Linked DNA regions of Homo sapiens: all the other regions are linked to region 2. Evidence: fine-mapped expression QTL. A gene starts in region 2. Each other region holds a variant in brackets. All regions are shown on one strand. Distances are between the middles of the regions. Region 1 has its middle 47 kb from the start of GK5. Region 2 holds the start of GK5 (glycerol kinase 5). Region 3 overlaps GK5 (glycerol kinase 5).

Region 1 (7,388 bases), 46 kb after region 2:
CTACAGATAAATTTTCCTTAAGACCGAGGAATCTCTTTAAAAACATTTTTTAATGTAAAGCCTTGTCACACTAATTTTTGTAGACAAAATACATTTTATCCTTGTTTATATATATTGTGTCCACTTATTTGACACTTCAAAGATGTTTTTTGGAGTACTTTGGCCCACTTTCCACTTAGAGAAACTGTGGTTCCTAACCAGGTTGATTCAAGCAATATTAACTGACTTAGATTTTGTGGGTTCCCTGACGCTTGGGTGTTTACAATGTGGTGTATATGAGATGTAAACCCCTCAATTTGATTATGTTGGCTATGATTTTCTTGGTTATGATACCATTTGCCCAATGTAGGCATTAAAAATAGCCTAGAATTCAGGTCATTAAGGCCTCATTTTCTATGAATTTTTAACAGTATTTTGTCTACATTAAAAATTATTTTGGAGGATTAATGAGGTTTAATTGAGGAGACTCACTATTTCTCCATTGTGTTTAACTTCTTCAATTACAAAAGCAATGTTTTTGCCACCGGTTCTGATAATAGGATTTAAAGATTTGAATTTCATTGCAACGTAATACCTTCTAATCAGGATATTCAGCTCTTTTCATAAAACTAGAATAGTGTCATCTGAAAAGTTGATCCTTTTAGGTAAACAATGCACACTCTTTGTTTTACCATGCCTTAAAAATATCACATGTTGGAATAAACAAACCTTAATCCCCTATTAACACTGCAAATACTAAAAATAAGATAAAATTATTTGGAGAAAGAAGGTTGTTTTTTGGAGTTAAAAGAGACTTCCTGTAAGAAGACAAACAACTCAATAGAACATGGGAAAGAGACTTGACATTTCTTAAAAGAAGTGATACAAATGGCCCACAAGCCAGTGAAAAGATTCTCATTGTCATTAGTCATTAAGGAAATGCAAGCTAAAACCACGACTACATACCACTTCACACCCACTAGGATGGTCATAATTTTAAAAAATAGAAAATAAGTGTTGTTAAGTATGTAAAGAAACACAGCACATTGCTGGTAGAAGTGAAAAATGATATAGCTGCTGTGGAAAATGCTTTCCTTTCAAGGCATCTCAATAAGTTAAATCATAACCCCCAGCAATTTCATCCTAGGTATATGCCCTTGAGAACTGAAAACAGGTGCACAAATAAAAACTTGCACATTAATGTTTTCAGCAGCACAAGTCACCATAGCCAGAAGGTGGAAGCAACCCTCATGCCCATTAAGCAGCTGAATGAATAAACAAAATATGGGATACAGTGGAATATTATTCAGCCTTGAAAAGAAAGGACTGATACACGCTGCAACATGGATGACCCCCGGACGCACTATGTTAGGTGAGAGAAGCCTAACGCAAAAGGCCACTGTAATAGAATATTTCACAAGTTCTATCTTGACCCAATTTTGAGTCAAGCTAAAACTTGGCTAAAAGTCTTGCTGCCCCTTTGTGGACAGTTTGCTAACTCTCCATCCCGGCGACTTCACACCTCAGGTTCTTGTTGTTCACGGGTGCTATCCTGTCTTATTTCACAAATGCTGTCTTGATCCTGTTTTGAGGTCATGGTAGTAAAATCATATTTCACAAGTGCTGTCTTGACTCAGTTTTGAGGTCATGTCTACACCTCTCAATTTCCCTTCATGGGCAGTTTGCTAAGGCTCCACCCTAGCCACTTCCTTTCTTGGGCTGTAGCACTCTGGATTTCTGTTCATACACACTCAACTGCAAGAGGCCCCAAGGTACCCACAGCCAGGGACTGGCTCTTCTTCCTGGGGCCCATGGAATTATTCAGAATACCCAATCTTTAGGAAGCCCACAACACCCAGCTAACCCCACCCTGTTTGTCATACATAAGCTGCTTCTACAGTTCCAGCTTGCTGTTACCCTGTCCCCAGGTGTGGTCCTGCATGGTAGCGTTTTTGAGTGTCCGGCCATGCAAAGGAACTGTAATTATACCTTATATCATATAATCACAAAACAGCCACATACTGTATAATTCCATTTGTATGAAATACCTATAGTAGGCAAATCCATACAATAGGGAGCAGACGGCCGGGCGTGGTGGCTCATGGCTGTCATCCCAGCAGTTTGGGAGGCTGAAGCTTGTGGATCACTAGAGCCCAGGAGTTCGAGACCATCCTGGGCTACATAACAAAACCTCATCTCTATTAAAAAAAATACAAAAAAATTTAGCCAGGCATGGTGGCCTGTGCTTGTGGTTCCAGCTACTAGGGAGGCTGAGGTGGGAGGATCACTTAAGCCCAGGAGGTGGAGGTTGCAGTGAGCTGAGATTGTGCCACTGCACTCCAGCCTGGGCAACAGAGCAGGACCCTGTCTCAAAAACAAACAAACAAACAAAAAACACAGTAGACAGCAGATTTGTGGTTGCCTGGGCTGTGAGGAAAAAGAGTAGAGAATGACTTCTTAATGGGTACAGAGTTCCCATTGGGATGATAAAAATGTTCTGAAATTAGGTAGTAGTGATGGCTGCACAACACCATGAATGTTCTTAATACCAAAAATGGCATATTTTATTATGTGTATTCTACCACAATAAAAAACTGCAAGTCCAAAAATAAGACGGGGTCTAAGAAAAGAGAATGCAAGTACATTTAAAAATATCCTAATTTTCGGCAGGGCGCGGTGGCTCGTGCCTGTAATCCTAGCACTTTGGGAGGCCGAGGTGGGAGGATCACAAGGTCAGGAGATCAAGACTATCCTGGCTAACACGGTGGAACCCCGTCTCTACTAAAGATACAAAAAATTAGGCTGGCATGGTGGCGGGCACCTGTAGTCCCAGCTACTCGGGAGGCTGAGGCAGGAGAATGGCTTGAATCCGGAAGGCAGAGCTTGCAGTGAGCCGAGATCGTGCCACTACACTCCAGCCTGGGCGAAAGAGCGAGACTCCATCTCAAAAAACAAAAAAAATTCCTAATTTTCCAGTGGAATTGTCTACCAAAGGAAAAAAAAAAGAATATATAAAATAAAATATTCTAATTCCCTGAGTACAAGAAAACAAAGTTTTATCAATTTCTCTAAGTGCGCATGACTGATTTTTCTAAAAATAACCTGACTTTGTTGTCTAAAGTAGAAAAAGTAAATAGATCTGGTTGTGTTAATGTATTTATCAAAAAATAAATAAGTTGGCATGGTGGCTCATGCCAGTAATCCCAACACTTTGGGAGGCTGAGGTGGGAACATCGCTTGAGCTCAGGAGTTTCAGACCAGCCTAAACAACATAGTGAGACCTTGTCTCTACAAAAAATTTAAAAATTAGCCAGGCGTGGCGGCACATACCTATAGTGTCAGATACTTGGGAGGCTGAGGTGGGAGGATTGCTTGAGTCCAGAAGGTGGAGGTATAGTGAGTGAGTCATGATCACAGCACTGCACTCCAGCCTGGGTGACACAGCGAGACCCTGTTTTGGTAAATAAATAAACAGAACCCCTATATATCAAACAGACTGGTAAAAATTGAAGACTGACAAGACAAATGTTGGCGGGGACGTGAAGTAGCCTGGATTCTCATCTGTCATTGGTGGGAACGTAAAATGGCACACCCACTTTACAAAAAGCCTGACAGTTTCTTCTGAAAATAAACAAATGCCTATCTTATGACCCACAAATTCAATTCCTAGGTATTCACCCAAGATAAAGGAAAACAAATGTCCCCAAAAAGACTTGTACAAGGATGTTCATAGCTGCTTTATTCCTAAGAGTGGCAAACCGGAAATAGCCCAGCTGGCCATCAGTTAAAGAATAAATAACTAGCTGTATTCTCCACACAATGGACTACTATTCAGAAATAAAGAGAATCAGATTACTGATGCACACAATAGCATGAATGAATCCCAAAACATTATATTGAGAAAAAGAAACCTTACGCAAACAATACATACTGTATTACTCCATTGATATAAAGTTCTACAACTGGGAAAACTAATCTGTGGTGGAAAAATTTCAAAACAATGGTTGTTTCTGGGGGTTGGGGGTGGAGAGTCATTGGATCAGCTATGAAGGAATTTTCTGTGGGTGATGGTGATGTTCAGTGTCTTGATCATGGTTTAGGTTGCATGTGTATATAC[G/A]TGCTGAACCTCATGAATTAGTACACTTAAGATTTGTGCATTTCATTTTTTGTAAATTTTACCTCAAAAGAAACAAAAACAAACCGTACAAATATTGAACTGTAGTTGATGATATGCACGTTGAAATTTTGGGGGAGAAAATATACTGATGTCTACAAGTTACTTGGAAATGTATACAAAATAAGATGGATTGTTAGATGGAAAGAGAGATGGATAGAAGGAGCAGTATACGCTGAAGTAAGAAGAGGAAAATGTTAATGGTAGAATATAACGAATGTGTACATGGATGTTCACTGACATATTGTTCCCTTTTTGTGTGCATTTGGAAATATTTATAATAAACTGTAGTGGGAAAGCAATAATAAGTAAAGAAATAACAAAATATACATCATCAAACTCATCCTTCTTACTGTTTGGAGTCTTAAAACTTGGCAAGGAAATTGGACAGACATTTTTTTCAGCAAGCCAAAGACCCCATATTCTAAGAATGATTTTTCTTTGTCTAAAACTCTCAGTGATCACCATGAGCAACAACAAAGCTTCTTTGTCAGTCTTGACTGTGCTGACTTCATGACAGCTGGGCCAAATGCTGGGAGCCAAAGTCTCTTGGTATCAATTACTAAGCTTTAATAGCCAATTACAGTGTGAGCAGATGACACTCTCTCATTTGAATGAATTAGTATTAATTCTTTGTTGCCTGGGAGTAACCACTCTGCAATGTCAGTCTCAACTTCCTTTCCCAGCCAATATCTGATGGTGGTCTTTTTATCTCCATGTTTTTTCTTCTTCCTTTTTTTTTTTTAAATTATACTTTAAGGTCTAGGGTACACACGCACAACGTGCAGGTTTGTTACATAGGTATACATGTGCCATGTTGGTTTGCTGCACCCTTTAACTCGTCATTTACATTAGGTATTTCTCCTAATGCTATCCCTCCCCCAGCCCCCCACCCCACGACAGGCCCATGGTCTTGATCTCCCTGACCTTGTGATCCGCCCGCCTCAGACTCCCAAAGTGCTTGATCTTCTAGAATTTTTATAGTTTCAGGTTTTAGATTTGAGTTGGTTTTTGCATAAGGTGAGAGATGAGGATCCAGTTTCATTCTTCTACATGTGGCTTGCCAATTATCCCAGCACCACTTGTCGAAAAGTGTGTCCTTTCCCCACTGTATCTTTTTGTTTGCTTTGTCCAAGATCAGTTGGCTGTAAGTATTTGGGTTTATTTCTGAGTCCCTATTTTGCTCCATTGGTCTATGTGCCTATTTTTATACCAGTACCATGCTGTTTTGGTGACTATGGCCTTGTAGTGTAGTTTGAAATCAGGTAGTGTGACACCTCCAGATTTGTTCTTTTTGCTTAGCCTTTCTTTGGCTATGTGGGGTCTTTTTTGGTTCCATATGAATTTTAGAATTGTTTCTTCTAATTCTGTGAAGAATGATGGTGGTATTTTGATGGGAATTGCATTGAATTTGTAGATTGCTTTTGGCAGTACGGTCATTTTCACAATATTGATTCTATTCATCCATAAGCATGGGATGTGTTTCCATTTGTTTGTGTTGTCTATGGTTTCTTTCAGCAGTGTTTTGTAGTTTTCCTTGTGGAGGTCTTTTGCCTCCTTGGTTAGGTATATTTCTACCTTTTTTTTTTTTTTGCAGCTATCGTAAAAATGGTTGAGTTCTTGATTTGATTCTCCGCTTGGTCCACTGTTGGTGTATAGAACAGCTACTGAATTGTGTACATTGATCTTGTATCTGGAAACTTTGCTGAATTCTTTTATAATTTCTAGGAGCTTTCTGGAGGAGTCTTTATGGTTTTCAAGGTAAAGGATCATATTGTCAGCAAACAGTGACAGTTTAAATTCCTCTGTACCTATTTGGATTCCCTTTATTTTATTTTAGGTTTATTTATTTATTTTTTTTTTTGAGATGGAGTTTCACTCCTATTGCCCAATCTGGAGTGCAAGGGCCAGAGCCTCAGGTCTAGAACTGGGAGGGGAGCAGAGGGAAAAGATGAGTTGCAGTGAGCGTGGGAGAACTGCAGTAAAGTCACTGAGAGACATCTATCTGGCTGGAAGAGAAAGCTTGAATCTTTATTTTACATAATGTTTTACCTAACACTACTTTTACATCAAACAATGGGAAGAATCTTATGAATGTTTTCCATTAAATTGTGGGAGTCCACACATCTCTTGGCACTACCATTGCAAGTCAGCTAGATCTCCACACCTGCACCAAGCATGTCAGCTACATTTTTATCTGCTTTATATAGAAGAATAATGCTTTCAATCTTATTGATTAAAGGATTCTATGGCTTTAAAAAAGATTCCCTGCAATTGGCAATGGGGTGTGATTGAAGAATTCTGAGCCAGGAAGCAGGTCAGTTTCATTTTAGCAGAAGCCTCTGATAGCAGAGTGGGGAGGCAGGCAGTGTTGCATGGTGTCTCAGTCTCTGGCTTTAGGATCATGCAGATTTAGATTTGAATTCTGCCTTTACCATTCACCATCTGTGTGTTCCCATGTAAGTCACTTCATTTCCCTGAGTTTTAATCAGAAAACAGGAATAATAATGGCTCTCTCATGACAGTGTGGTAAAGGTTAAATGACAGAATGCTTATGAAGTGCTTGATCTGTGAACAGTATTTCTTACAGTTATTTTTATGGACTGAAGTGGTTCAAGACTGAAAGGAGGGAAAATAGTGGACTATTGCAACAGTCCAAATATGAGAGGAAGAGGACCTGCATGAAGGCATTAACCATACGGATGGAGAGAAGAGGGCAGATACAGGAGATAACAACACACTAGGACTTGGGAACCAACTGGATTTGGGAGGCGAGGAAGGGGGAAGGAAAGGCAGAATCAAAGATGATTCATATAATTGTAACTTGTATTACTTGCTGTTCATAAGTGTAGAAATACCAGATGATGTTATTTCTGGCAAAAAATGATGACTTACTTCACTTAGTGACCTAGAGGAAGTGTAATTGAGAAATCATTATCTGATAACCCCATAAATACTGGTTAAGACTGTAGGTTCTTCTCCTTGCTTTGTGGTTAAAGAGAGAGAGAGACTGCTAGTATTTGACTAAGTTCTTGATTTGGGAGAAGTGTGTGTGTGTCTGTGTTTGTGTGTGTGTGTGTGCATGTTTTGAATTCAGGGAAGATTTATCTGGCAATGGTGGATTACAGGTTAAAAAAGTCACAGGCTGGGTGCGGTGGCACACGCCTGTAATCCCAGCACTTTGGGAGGCCAAGGCAGGCGGATCACAAGGTCAAAAGATCGAAACCATCCTGGC
Region 2 (7,128 bases):
TACTCTTAGAAAGGTAATGAGTACCCAGTCACTGAAGGGTGGTGTCTGCCTTTCATTTTTCTTTTCAGGCTGGGATAGGGATAGTGTGTGGGTGGGTGGGCAGTGTTCCCACACAGCTAGCCAGAGAAGGGACCAGGGAGCTGCTACAATCCCAGTTCCACTGTCTTGGTCCTGAAACCTGAATGGAGGCCGGGCACAGTGGCACACGCCTATAATCCCAGTGCTCTGGGAGGCTGAGGCAGGCGGTTCACCTGAGGTCAAGAGTTCAAGACCAGCCTGGCCAACATGGCGAAACCCTGTCTCTACAAAAATACAAAAATTAGCCAGGCATGATGGCGGGTGCCTGCAATCCCAGCTACTCAGGAGGCTGAGGCAGGAGACTTGCTTGAACCTAGGAGGCAGAGGTTGCAGTGAGCCGAGATCATGCCATTGCACTCCAGCCTGGGTGACAGAGCGAGACTCCGTCTAAAAAGAAAAAAAAGAAAAACTTAATGGAAGGAAGTCTGATGTTTCCCCAGAACAAATGCTCAAAGCAGTCACTACTCACTGGCACTCTAGCTGGACCTTGCTCCTGGGCAAGTGCTACAAAGAAAAACACCTCTAAGGTGGTGGGAAGAAGAACGGGACACTGAGAAAAAGGGGGAATACAGTGCTGCTGGGAATGGTTAGGTAACTGATGGCTCCGGCCCTCCCTCAAATTTCTAACATAAAAAGATGTTGGTACTGGGAAGAGAAAATAAGAACACCATAACAGGCTGGCTGCAGTGGCTCACGCCTGTAATCTTGGCACTTAGGGAGGCCGAGGCGGGTGAATTATTTGAGCCCAGGAATTTCCAGACCAGCCTGGGCAACATGGCAAAATCCCATCTCTATTAAAAAATACAAACAAATTTAGCCAGGCATGGTGGCCCCTTGCCTGTAGTCCCAGCTACTTGGGGGGCTGAGGTGGAAGGATCACTTGAGCCCAGGAGGTCAAAGCTGCAGTGAGCCGAGATCACAGCACTGCACTCCAGCCTGGGTGACAAAGTGAGACCCTGTCTCAAAAGAAAAAAAGGAACAACAATAAGAACACCATAACAAATAAATATTATTTTTGGTGCATTGACAATTGTGTATAAATCAACACTTCATTAATATGAGAACAGAAGGATATCAATTTGTTGGTTGCTGACCAATATTATCAACAATTCAAGGCTTTACTAACAACCAACCAATGATTTGGCAGGTCTCTCAAACGAGGGGAAATAAAGAATTTTATGAATTCTCAAAGATGGAAAATAGAAAACTGATGACCACACAGCCTTCAAAACTTGCCCAATACCTCTAATATCCACGGCAATCAGTTGCTCACGTAAGGAACCAGCATTTTGTGGAGTAGTAGTTAATAAAGATGACAAGTGAAGAATAGAGAATAAACTTAAATTCTACAAAGATATGAAAAGTTATTGAGGCACAAGTCCAAAGGCTATAATAAAGAAAAAAGAAAAAAAGTTTTGAAAAATTAAAATGTAAATAAAGATGTGGTGGGAGATCTATCAGGGAAGTGCAGGAAGAACCAAGCAACTCACAAACCACCCTCTGGCTGGATGTGCACAGCCTGCCCAGTCCCGTCCGGCGAGTCACCTCAGTCCCATCCAGGTAAGGCCGGACAGGTGGCTCCCCAGGTGGCAAGAGGCAAGCGAGCGGCCCAGGTCATACACCGGGCCCCTGGCACCCTCAGCCTGGACAGGAAGGGCGCGCGGGATTCAGCCCAGACGAGGGAGGGAACGCGAAGACTCAGCCGGTCTGGGCGCGCCGTTCTGGCCCCAGGGCCCGCGGGTGCTGCAGGTGGCCGCGTCCAGGGCGGTAGGTGGGGCCTGCCCGCTCGCCTCCCGAGGCCGGACCCCGGGACTCAGCGAAACCCAGTCAGACCCGCGCCCCACGCCCGCCCCCAAGTCACCTTCTGCACGCTGGAGCCGCAGACCCGCGCCGCCCGGTCATAGACGTGGCAGCGGATCACAGAACTGCCCACATCCAGCCCCAGCACGAAGCCGGGGTACCGCGGCTCCTGCGCTCTCTGCTCCGGGTCCGTGAGCAGCCCCGACATCCCGATCCCGCACGCCTCTCCGCTACAGCCGCCTACCCAGAGGGCGCGCTACAAATCCCAATGCTCCAGAGTCCCCGGGCGGCCCAACCCGGGCCCCAACCCGGCTCAGCCGGAGAGCCTAGAGAGGCCTGGCCCCTGCCGCCGGCTCCACCCCGACGCCGTGACGCCACGGGCGCGCGCCGGCGGCCGCGCGGGAGGGGTGGAGGTGAGCGGGTTTGCGCCGTGATCTGCAGCCCCAGATCGCCAGCCATGCTCAGCCTCCAGTCGCCGGCCGCGGTTGGATTGACTTGGCCCTTAACTCTTGTTTTTTTTCTTTTTGAGACGGAGTCTCACTCTGTCGCCCCGGCTGGAGTGCGGTGGCGCGATCTCGGCTCACTGCAACCTCCGCCTCCCGGGTTCAAGCGATTCTCTTGCCTCAGCCTCCCGAGTAGCTGGGATTACAGGCGCGCTCCACCACGCCCGGCTATTTTTGTATTTTTAGTAGAGAAGGGGTTTCACCATGTTGATCAGGCTGGTCTCGATCTCCTGATCTCGTGATCCGCTCGCCTCGGCTTCCCAAATTGCTGCGATTGCAGGCGTGAGCCACCGAGCCCGGCGGCCCTTAACTCTTAATTTTTTCTTTTGCTTCTCCAGCTTCCTGAGAGGCAGCGCCAGCGTTTCTCTTAACCCTAGCTACATTTGAAGAATCTCTGTTAAAGAAAAATAGCTACCCCATATGCTAATCGTAAGGAGAGAAGTATAGGCTAGTTTATATAAAAATCTCAAAAAGTTTGGAGGTGCCATAAGGCACATTTATTCATTTCTCAACTATGATTATGACTTGAGGGTTGGAGAAATTTTTATCTGAGTAACTTTGGCAGACTAACCTGTGTCTGCGTTCGTGCAGAATTTTTCAAGCTTAAAACATTTGTAGAGGTCACTACCATATATAGTTTCCATTTTTTTGCTAACATTTTGGGTGCGACTTTATTTCAGTATTATTAAATGCACAGCCATTGAATATGCTAGAGTTAAATGAAATAAAGTGCTGTTTTTCAAAAATGAAATAAAACAAGTGACATAAAAAATTCAAAATTTGGCCAAAAGTATTAATATTTATTAACAAACTGAGAGCTCCCCACGACTTCTCTTCCCAGAAAACCTGGTAAAGTTTGCACACAATACAAAGCGGTAAATATTTGCCAAATGAAATACAACGCAAGGAAGAAGACTTTTCTCAGCCCTCTAGTGGGAAAGAAAGGAGAAAGCTTAAGGTGGCTGCTTTGACCATCACACTCCACTCCAGCGGTTGCTTTTTTTTGGAATCTGAAAGCCTCACAGAGACCCTTTACCTTTTGTTGCTGCCCAAGGGGATGGGCTCATCCAGACACTTGGCCAAAAGGAACAAGGTGTCCTGTGGAAATTTCGAGATTCTTGCGGCTTAGGTTCCTGGGCCTGGAGCTTTCCCGGGGAGGGTCCTGATCTGCAAGTAGTGGGGAGGTGGTTCCACCTGCGCCACCCACCTCTCCACTGCCACCAGCAATCTGTGAAGCCGGGGCCTGAAAATATTCCTTATCTTCTTTTTGTAAAATTAGCAAACATATGAATATATGTTTTGTGTGAAAACGTTTAACAGTGCCAACTGGTATGTCAATTAAAAGGTAAAAGATAATCATTTTGGCTGGGCGCGGGGGCTCACGACTGTAATCCCAGCACTTTCGGAGGCCGAGGCGGGCGGATCACTTGAGGTCAGGAGTTTGAGAGCAGCCTGGGCAACATGGTGAAACCCCGTCTCTACAAAAATACAAAACTTAGCCGGGCGTGGTAGCGGGCTCCTGCAATCCCAGCTACGGGGGAGGCTGAGGCAGGAGAATTACTTGAAGCCGGGAGGCGGAGGTTGCAGTGAGCCGAGATCATGCCACTGCACTCCAGCCTGGGCGACAGAGCAAGACTCTGCCTCAAAATACATACATACATACATACATACATACATACATACATACATACATACTTACATACATACATACATACATACTCATTTTGAATCAAAACTTTTTTTAGACAGGGTCTTGCTCTGTCGCCCAGGCTGGAGTGCTGTGGTGCCATCTCAGCTCACTGCAGCCTCGACCTCCCGGGCTCAGGCGATCCAACTGCCTTAGCCTCCCATGTAGCTGGGACTACAACCACCACGCCCGCCTAATTTTTGCATTTTTTTGTAGAGACTCTGTTTCGCCATATTGGCCAGGCTGGTCTTGAGCTCCTGGCCTCAAGTGATCCTCCCACCTTTGTCTCCCAAAGTGCTGGGATTATGGGTGTGAGCCATTGTGCCCAGCCAAATCATTCTTTTTTTTTTTTTTTCTTTTTTGAGACGGAGTTTTGCCCTTGTTTGCCCAGGCTGGAGTGCAGTGCTGCGATCTCGGCTCACTGCAACCTCCGCCTCCCGGATTCAAGCGATTCTCCTGCCTCAGTCTCCCAAGTTGCTGGGACTACAGGCCCTCTCCACCATGCCCAGCTAATTTTTGTATTTTTAGTAGAGACGGGGTTTCACCATGTTAGCCAGGATGGTCTGGATCTCCTGACCTCGTGATCCGCCCGCCACGGCCTCCCAAAGTGCTGGGATTACAAGCGTGAGCCACTGCACAGGGCCAAGTCATTCTTTTGACCAAATTGTCGTGTTAATCAACTTGCTTTCAGACAATTTGACAAAATTGGCTCTTTGGCCATACAACGTGAAGCTTGGAACATACACCTGGAAGAGTATGTTTTTTTTCTTTGTACCCTGTTCAACAGTACTGATTTGTTCCAAGTGGCCTCAAGGACTGACTGCCTTCACCAGTGCTGGCCATTTTGGTCGTGTGTGTGTGTGAATTATTGTAATTCGAAATAAATGACTAATGGGTCCAGTACTTGTCAGGGTTCTACAGAGAAATAGAAACAATAGGATAGAGAGAAAGAGAAAGAGAGGTTTATTATTTTCAGGAATTGCTTCATGTGATTGTGAGGGCTGGCAAGTCCTGGATATTTGTGGGGCAGGCTAGCAGGCTGGAAACTCAAGAAGAGTTTCCATGTTGCAGTTTTGAGGAGACTTCCTTCTTTGGGAAACCTGTCTTTGTTCTTAAAGCTTAAAACCAATTGTATGAGACTCACCCAGGTTATGAAGGGTGATCTGCTTTACTCAAAGTCTACTAATTTAAATGTTAATTATTTCTAAGAAATACCTTCACAACAACACCTAGACTGGTGTTTGACCGAACAGCTGGGCATACAGTGTGTCTAACTAGCCTAGCCAAGTTCACACATAATAGTAACCATATCAGTTCCCCATTCACAACAGAGAAAACGGCTTTGTATTACCTGATGTTAATATTTAGTATATTTCTCAAAGTGATATTTCTTGGCTTCTTGAAACCTGACACTTCCTTAATGATCCTTTTTATAAATTCAAATAAATTATATTGAGTATTATCAAATCATAGAATTTGAAAACAGGGGCCTTAGAAACCACTTAATCTAGTGTTTCTCAAATTGTTTTCAGATCTTGAACAACTTTGAGGCCATAATGAACACTATCTTCCCAAGAAGATGCTTATACACACAAAATTTTGCACATAACTTCAGGTGCTGGGTGTTGGGTAAAGCAAACATAAAGATCTCAGATAAAAATCAAGATCTTATTTCACTGTTGAGTAGGAGAGGCCTGGGAGAACAAAGAGATACCTGTTTCTCCCACTTGCTTTGTTCTCTGTCAGCACCTCTAACCCTGCTCTTCTCTAAGGGAAAGGAGTATATGGGCAACAAGGCACAGGGCTCAGAGGCTTCTAAGGCCTTTGATAGCTGGTCAGTCATTCTTTTTTCTTAATTTTTAAAAAATTTTATGGATACATAGTAGGTGTATATATTTTTGGGTTACATGAGATATTTTGATACAGGCATGATAATCACATCAAGGTAAATAGGGTATCTTTTATGTCAAGCATTTATCCTTTGTGTTGCAAACAATCAAATTATACTCTTATTTTTAATGTACAACTAAATTGACTGTATCAAAAAATAGTCGATGTTGGTGTGAATGTGGTGAAAGGGGAACACAGACTGCTGTTGGGAATGTAAATTAGTACAGCCTCTATGAAAAACAGTGTGGAGATTCCTTAAAAGAGCTAAAAGTAGATCTACCATTTGATCCAGGATTCCCATTACTGGGTATCTACCCAAAAGAAAATAAGTCATTATATGAAAAATACACCTACACAAATATATTTATTATGGCACAATTCACAATTGCAAAGATATGGAACCAACCTAAGTGCCCATCAACTAATGGGTGAATAAAGAAAATATGGTATATATATATACACACACTATGGAATACTACTCAACCATAAAAAGGAATCAAATAATGTCTTACAGCAACTTGGATGGAGCTGGAGCCCATTATTCTAAGTGAATTAACCCAGGAATGGAAAACCAAAGAAGTAGGAGCTAAGTACACAAAGGTACACAAAGTCATATAACGGACTTTGGAGACCCAGAAATGGGAGGGTGGGACGGGGGTGTGTGATAAGAAGCTACCTACTGGGTACAATGTACACTACTCAGGTGACTGGTACACTAAAATGTCAGAATTCACCACTATATAATTCATCCATGTAACCCAAAACCACTTGTACCCCAAAAGCTATTGAAATAAAAAAATGTGATTTTTAACTATAGACACCCTGTCGTGCTATCAAATACTAGATCTTATTACTCCTTCCATTTTTTATACCTATTAGCTATCCTCACTTCCCCCGGCCCTACCCCTCACCCCTGTCCACTACCCTTCCCAGCCCCTGGTAACCATCCTTCTACTCTCTATCTCCATGAGTTCAATTATTTTAATTTGTAGCTCCCACAAATAACTGAGAACATGTGAACTTTGTCTTTCTGTGCCTGGCTTATTTCACCTAACATAATGACCTCCATTTCCATCCAAGTTGTTGTAAATGACAAGATCTCATTTTTTTAATGGCTGAATAGTACTCCATTATGTGTAATACCATATTTTCTTTATCCATTTCATCTGT
Region 3 (7,274 bases), 65 kb before region 2:
CCTCGTGATCCGCCAGCCGTGGCCTCCCAAAGTGCTGGGACTACACGTGTGAGCCACCATGCCCGGCCTTGTTTTTGTTTTTGCCAAGTTTCACCATGTTGCCCAGGATATCCTCAAACTCCTGGGCTCAAGTGATTCTCCAGCCTCAGCCTCCTGAGTAGCTGGGAATAGAAGAGCATGCCACTGTGTCTGGCTTCTCTGTGACTTTCTTAATGTGCAGAAACCAAAACAGGTAATAGTATTTAATAAGAATGTCCTGGTAATTTTTTTTAAATCTAAAAGTAGACAAAAAGGGAAGGGAAAAATTCATATGCAGATGAAAAATATTCTATTACTGTGGATCCTTGATTTTTTGTATAGATCTTAACAATGATTTATGAGGTTCTCAATGACAATTTAATAAAACTGCAAAATTCATTAAGAGCATCACAGAAGGCCAGGCACAGTGGCTCACATCAGAGAAATAAGATTATGAATTTACTGAGGCATACAAATTGGAATCTACATTTACCATCTTGTACAAATAGGAAAGTTTCTAATAACTTATTAACAAAATCATTCTGAAACCTTTACACAAATCAGCCTGCTTTAAATAAAAAGGTTAGAAACATTATGATAACTATGTACAAAGTATATATCTGTATACTCTAACATTCTAAATAAAGGTATCTTTGAAAATTTACTATTATACAGTATTAGTACCATACTCTATAATGAGCAAAGAAAGAATATGAGAACTCTTGGGCTCAGTACAGTGTAAATATGTTCAAAATGCTATACACATTTTGCCTGGAAAGATTTAAAAAATCCCACATAATCACATAAACCACTGGACTGACTTTTAAAAACTTTAAAAAAGATATTTAAAGATATGGCTCATTAAGCAAACATTTAGTGATCATATCTCACTGCAGCCTCGAACTCCTGGGCTCAAGTGATCCTCCTGCCTCAATTGGCAAATGGGCAAAAGATATGAACAGATATTTCACTGAAAAGGATAAACAGAATGGTTGAAATAAGAAATAGTGACAACACCAAATGCTGGCGAGCATGCAGAGAAACTGGATCACTCATACATTCCTGGTGGGAATGTAAGATGGTATAGCCAGTCTGGAAAACAGTTTGGCTGTTTCTTATAAAGATAAGATTCATTTAAATGGGAGTCTCTATATCATTTGTTTCCTAAACATCACGGGTATCTATCTAAACACAGCCATTTTATAACAGATCAAATTTATAGTAAAGTGGGGAAAGACAGTAGAAATAGAATAACAGAGAATTTCAGAAATATCTGATTTTGCAAGCACCTGTTTCTGTCCTTCCCACTCCAAGATCATTCCTGCATTCCTCTAGGAACAAGGGTCCCATGGGAATATGATACAGCCAATGACTTAGGTGCCAATAGATGCTGGTGCCAAAATATTTATGGCTATGAGGCTTCAAAACTTAAAAAAAAAAAAAAGATTCCTTTTACTTGGAAAGGGGATTTAAAAAGAAAAAACCACCAACACGATTTTGAATCATCTATTTAACTTTTTTAGATTACCCATTTTGACTGGTTCGAACCAGAAGACCTGGCTTTGGGTTTACAATAAGACGATTCTGGGACCAAGTAGGTTGTAAAGGCCCAAGGTATGTTTGGGGCTTTCTCTCTCTCTCTCTCTCTCTCTCTTTTTTTTTTTTGAGACAGAGTCTCGCTCTCTCACCCAGGCTGGAATGCAGTGGCCCAATCTCGGCTCACTGCAACCTCCACGTCCCGGGTTCAAGCAATTCTCCTGTCTCAGCCTCCCAAGTCGCTGGGACCACAGGCACATGCCATCAGGACTGGCTAATTTTTGTATTTTTAGTAGAGATGGGGTTTCACCATATTGATCAGGCTGGTCTTGAACTCCTGACCTCAGGTGATCCACCCGCCTTGGCCTCCCAAAGTGCTGGGATTACAGGCGTGAGCCACTACACCTGGCCTTTTTCTCTCTTTTTTTAAATTGAGATGGGTGGGGTCTCACTATGTTGCCTAGGCTGGTCTCGAACTCCTGAGCTCAAGCGATCCTCCCGCCTTGGCCTCACAAATTGCTGGGATTACAGGTGTGAACCACCACGCTTATCCTGGGGCTTTTAATTCTTACTGAAAATCATAGTCTAAATTTCCCAAAGGGATTCAGAATCCTTTGGGGTACATTCAAGTCTTCTAGGCCATCTCTGGGATGACTCTAGAATAACTTAAAGTCAAAGAACTCCAGGGTATATCTACATCTCTCCTCAAATAATTACAAAATTCTTGCAAGATTCCTGGGCTGGACTGTTTTAAATTAAAGACTGGTCCCTTACAGGAGGGGCTATTTATGAAGTTCCTTCCCTATAGCACCAGAGTGTTTCGCACTCTTAAAATTCAATCTGTTAGTCATCTGCAGTCAAATATATAAAACCTGTGAAGAGAAAGGCTTCAATTAAAGCTTAAAAAGTTAATATATCTATGTGTATTTACAGACATGTGTCTCTACACAAATAGTTTTTCAAATATATAAACATATTAAGAATTTTATTTTATTTTATTAAGACAGGGCCTTGCCCTGTTGCCCAGGCTGGAGTGCAGTGGCACAATCATAGCTCATAGCACCCTCAAACTCCTGTGTTCAAGCGATTCTCCTGCTTCGGTTTCCTGAGTAGCTGGGACTACAGGGGCATACCACCACACCTGGCTAATTTAAAAAAAATTTTTTTGTAGAGACAAGGTCTCACTTTGCTGCCCAAGCTGTAACTGAACTCCTGGCTTCAAGTGATCCTCTGGCCTCAGCCTCCCAAAGTGCTGGGATTACAGGCATGAGCCACTGTACTTGGCCAAAAATTTTAAATAAACAACATGAGGATTCTAGCTCTCACTACAGAGTAGTTCTTCTTTTGTTTTTTTGTTTTTGTTTTTGTTTTTGTTTTTTTGAAATGGAGTTTAACTCTTGTTGCCCAGGCTGGAGTGCAATGGCGCGATCTCGGCTCAACCGCAACCTCTGCCTCAGGGGTTCAAGCGGTTCTCCTGCCTCAGCCTCCTGACTAGCTGGGATTACAGGCATGTGCCACAACGCACAGCTAATTTTTTTGTAGTTTTAATAGAGATGGGGTTTCTCCATGTTGGTCAGGCTGGTCTCAAGCTACTAACCTCAGGTAATCCGTCCTCCTTGGCCTCCCAAAGTGCTGGGAAGAGTATAGTTCTTCTTAATCCAACAAAAAAGTATTTTACTCACAACAAATATAAATTGCCCCCATCAACAAATGTATGTAATATCAAGGATAACGTGTACAAACAAAGTTGCACTAACAAAGTAAAAATTTATCCCACATACATGAAAGCACAGTGCTAAGTTCTGGGGAAGCAGACAGTTTCTGCTTTCAGGGAGCTTCCAGTCTGGTAGAGATTTACACAGAAGGCAGATTAAAGAGAATGATGATCTCCTTTGTTCAGAGATAAAAAGGAAGCAAAAAAGCAGGTCAAATCAAAGATGATCTGCAGAATACATTAACCCTACACTGAAATCATGGACCTACTCCAGTAATTAAGGCTGCAGAGGTGGGGCTGGGTGGATGAAAACATCAGAAGACAATTACAGCATGAGATATTGATTGATTGATTGATTGATTGATTGAGACAGGGTCTCACTTTGCCACCCAGGCTAGAGTACAGTGACACCAACTTGGCTCACTGCAGCCTCCACCTCCTGGAGCTCAAGTGATCTTCCCACCTCAGCCCCCTAATTAGCTGGGACTATATGTGTGTGTCACCACACCCAGCTAATTTGTGTATTTTTTGTAGAGATAGGGATTCGCCAGGTTGCCCAGGCTGGTCTCAAACTCCTGAGCTGAAGTGATCCGCCTGCCTTGGCCTCCCAAAGTGCTAGGATTACAGGTGTGAGCCACTGTGCCCAGCTGAGATTTATTTTTTCTTTATTAATCAGCAAAATAGATACCCTATTTATTTCAAGATACGATTAACTAATTTTTTTGCTAACAACCATTTCCTAAGGTAAAATGAGGCAGAAAGAAAAGGAGTATGACACTATATTCACTGAGTCTTCGATTTTCTTCTAACAGCCTGTATCAGTGGCTCTCAACTGGGGGCAATTTTGCCTCTCAGAATGGCAATGTTTGAAGACATTTTTGGCCATAACAACTAGGGGGATGGTACTTGTAGCTAGAGGGCAGAGGTCAGGGATATTGCTAAACATCCTATAAAGTACAGCATAGCATCCCAAAATAAAGATTTATCCAGTCCAAAATGTCAATGCTGAGATTAGGAAACCATGCCATGGTTGGATAAAAAAGATGAAAAAATCAGTATGTCTATAGTATAAAAGCAATTAGTAGCACTTTAAGATAGATTGAACAGGAACATTCTCTTCCTTTATCAGACAGTTGCAGACCTTCTAAAAATATCTGATAGATCTATAATGGGAAAATAAAACATGCTGAGAAGTAGCACAAATTTTTCTAAACTTCAAATATTAGCATACAAATGAAAAACAAACTTGGAAGACAGAAAGGACAAGCCAGGCATGGTGGCTCACGCCTGTAATCCTAGCACTTTGGGAGGCCGAGGTGGGTGGGTCACAAGGTCAGGAGTTTGAGACCAGCCTGGCCAACATGGTAAAACCCTGTCTCTACTAAAAATACAAAAATCAGCTGGGCGTAGTGACGTATACCTGAAATCCCAGCTACTTGGGAGGCTGAGGCAGGAGGACTGCTTGAGCCCAGGAGAGGGAGGTTGCAGTGAGCCGAGATCATGCCACTGCACTCCAGCCTGGGCAACAGAGCATGACAATGTCTCAAAAAAAAAAAAAAAAAAGAAAGGACAATTTTGTTGCTCAATTGATCTTATCAACTGTTTCTGCAACCACAAAAGCAAATGTGGTCATGTTTCTGATTTTAGTTAAGTCCAAAAATATTTATTAAAGTCTTATCACTAAAAATGGCCACAAATATTAAAAATAAAATATTAGTTTTTAGATTCACAGAAGAAAAAAATAGCCACTGACACTTGAGGAGATGCTCAATTCCGATGAGGGACATTCAAAGTTACTTTCCAACATTATCTGAAAAGTATTGATCCTTTTTTTTTTTTTTTGAGACGCAGTGTCGCTCTGTTGCCCAGGCTACAGTGCAGTGGCATGATCTTGGCTCACTGCAACTTCCACCCCCCAGATTCAAGCAATTCTCCTGCCTCAGCCTCCCGAG[TA/T]GCTGGGATTACAGGCTTGCACCACCACATCCAGCTAATTTTTGTATTTTTAGTGGAGACAGGGTTTCACCGTGTTTGACCAGGTTGGACTCCTGACCTCAAATGATCCGCCCACTTCAGCCTGCCAAAGTGCTGGGATTACAGGCATGAGCCACTGCACACAGCCCAAAGTATTTATCCTTTATTTTGTGGTTATATGTTGGGAAAGAAGAACGTGGAAAAGAAGTGAACTAACAAATTTTCAGGTATTAATATTACAATTCAGTACATTCTGACAAAAAGAATTATTTCCTATGAAATTACACCCATTGGCTGGGTGCAGTGGTTCACGGCTGCAATCCCAGCACTTTGGGAGGCCAAGGTGGGAGGATCACTTGAGGCCAGGAATTAAAGACTACCCTGGGCAACACAGCAAGACCCTGTCTCTACAAAAAAAGAAAAAGAAAAAAAAATTACACCCACTGAGAAACAGAATGTGTAACAGTAAAACAACAGAGCAGCTTCCATGTGATTTTGATAGGAAAGCTTTAATTGGTGACTAAGCTTTGTAAAAAGGATGTAAACAGGGGAAAGAATGAAAAGAATAAGATTTATCTACATAATGAAGTTTGACTTTTTACAGTAAATAAAATACCTATTTATTAATATTTCCAAATATTAATTAGATTTAATAATACTATATATTTGTTACAATGCCTTCATCAGAAAATTTAATAATTAAGAAGATACTTGAAGTTCATTCAAATGGCACTTGCAGAAATGCAACTTAATTTCTAGTTCTATCATATCTGTCTCCAAAATGGACATATATGACAGCAAAAACAAAATTCTCTATAAATCTCTCCATTAGTTACATTACTATGTAACTAAAATAGCTAGTTCTATAATAAAAGGATTTTATGTGCCAAATCCTGACCAAGAGAGAAATAAAGTCATTATTGCTGCAAATCCAAATGGAACCTAACCCAAATGTAGGGAGGGGCAAATAAAGTGAAAACATGTTGGAAGGTGGGGTCAACTGCCTTAGGACAATTCTACATCCAGCTTGACACTACTCACGACTTACTCCTCCTCACTGTTTCTTCCAAGAAAGTCTAAGCATGTGAAACTGTCCTTGTTGCTCCCTGTGGATCTCTGGCTGAGTGGCTAAAGGGCAATCCTGAGCATAGACACACTCTCCTCCCTTCTATCAGCTGTCCCCCACACATACTCACAGGGATGAGTAGACTGAACAAACATCAAAAAGACGCAGGAACAAATAAAATACCCCAATAAAGGCAATTCTTAAGTGGTCAATAAATTAGGGCACTTCTTCAAATTAAGCTCTGTCAATTAGGCACTTAATAAAAACAAAAGACATTTATACAAGCATCTAAATAACAAAGAAAGATAAAGAACAAGAGAAAGACAAGATTTATGTTAACTACCAGCATGTTATACTTCAGCCAGAAGTTTTTGAAAGAAACGTTATTTGAGAAGGAAAATAAGTAGTATTTTTCTGTTTCTTAAAAATCAATATTCTTTCTAGTTCATTAACTAAAATTAGTTTTTCAGTGTTTTCAACATAGAAAGAATGCTCAGATTTTGGTTGAACAAGGAAAAATTAAGGCAGTGTCTTTAAGACCAGTAAAGGAAAGCATTAACTATCTCATAAGCTTATCTGAGAGGGACATATTAAGCTCATATTTGGATATAATATTAGGAAATTATGGCTTTAAACATAAAATATTAATGTTTCAAAATTCCACATTTTCTCAGTTATTCTTTCTTTTTAGCTATATGTACTTCAAATAGCCCACTTAAAGAATTAAAGAAATACGTTTCACATAATTTTGGAACAATATGTGCATGGTACTTGACCCAGAACTATTAGCTTGGATGGTAAATCATTATGTTCCTATGTACCACTGACCCAGTATAAAAAGGAAGAGGACCCATAACTGTCAAAATGTGGTTGGAAATGACTAATGTCCTTTGGAATTTGCTACAAAATAGAAGATATAAAGTTTTGAGGTATTGCTGCCTTACCATGGTTTAGGGGAAAAAAATAAGA

The links. PIP is the estimated chance that this variant, and not a neighbour inherited with it, causes the effect. A credible set is the group of variants that fine-mapping cannot tell apart.
Region 1: its variant is the best candidate, but not a certain one, in a credible set for the expression of GK5 in fibroblasts (GTEx, PIP 0.90).
Region 3: its variant is the best candidate, but not a certain one, in a credible set for the expression of GK5 in whole blood (INTERVAL, PIP 0.80).

What each region holds. Positions count from the first base shown.
Region 1 is chr3:142,269,030-142,276,417 of GRCh38, forward strand. No RefSeq gene overlaps it. Among named protein-coding and RNA genes, the nearest start is that of GK5, 47 kb to the left of the region's middle. The variant G/A (reference allele first, on the strand shown) is at 4,097.
Region 2 is chr3:142,223,370-142,230,497 of GRCh38, forward strand. It overlaps GK5 (glycerol kinase 5), which reads right to left and starts at 2,216. Exons shown (of 16, transcript NM_001039547.3): 1 at 1,940-2,216. The coding sequence starts at 2,086. RefSeq lists silencers at 1,750-1,969, 2,160-2,399.
Region 3 is chr3:142,158,183-142,165,456 of GRCh38, forward strand. GK5 (glycerol kinase 5) reads right to left here. Exons shown (of 16, transcript NM_001039547.3): 16 at 1-7,274. Among named protein-coding and RNA genes, the nearest start is that of TFDP2, 12 kb to the left of the region's middle. RefSeq lists an enhancer at 6,107-6,842. The variant TA/T (reference allele first, on the strand shown) is at 5,221.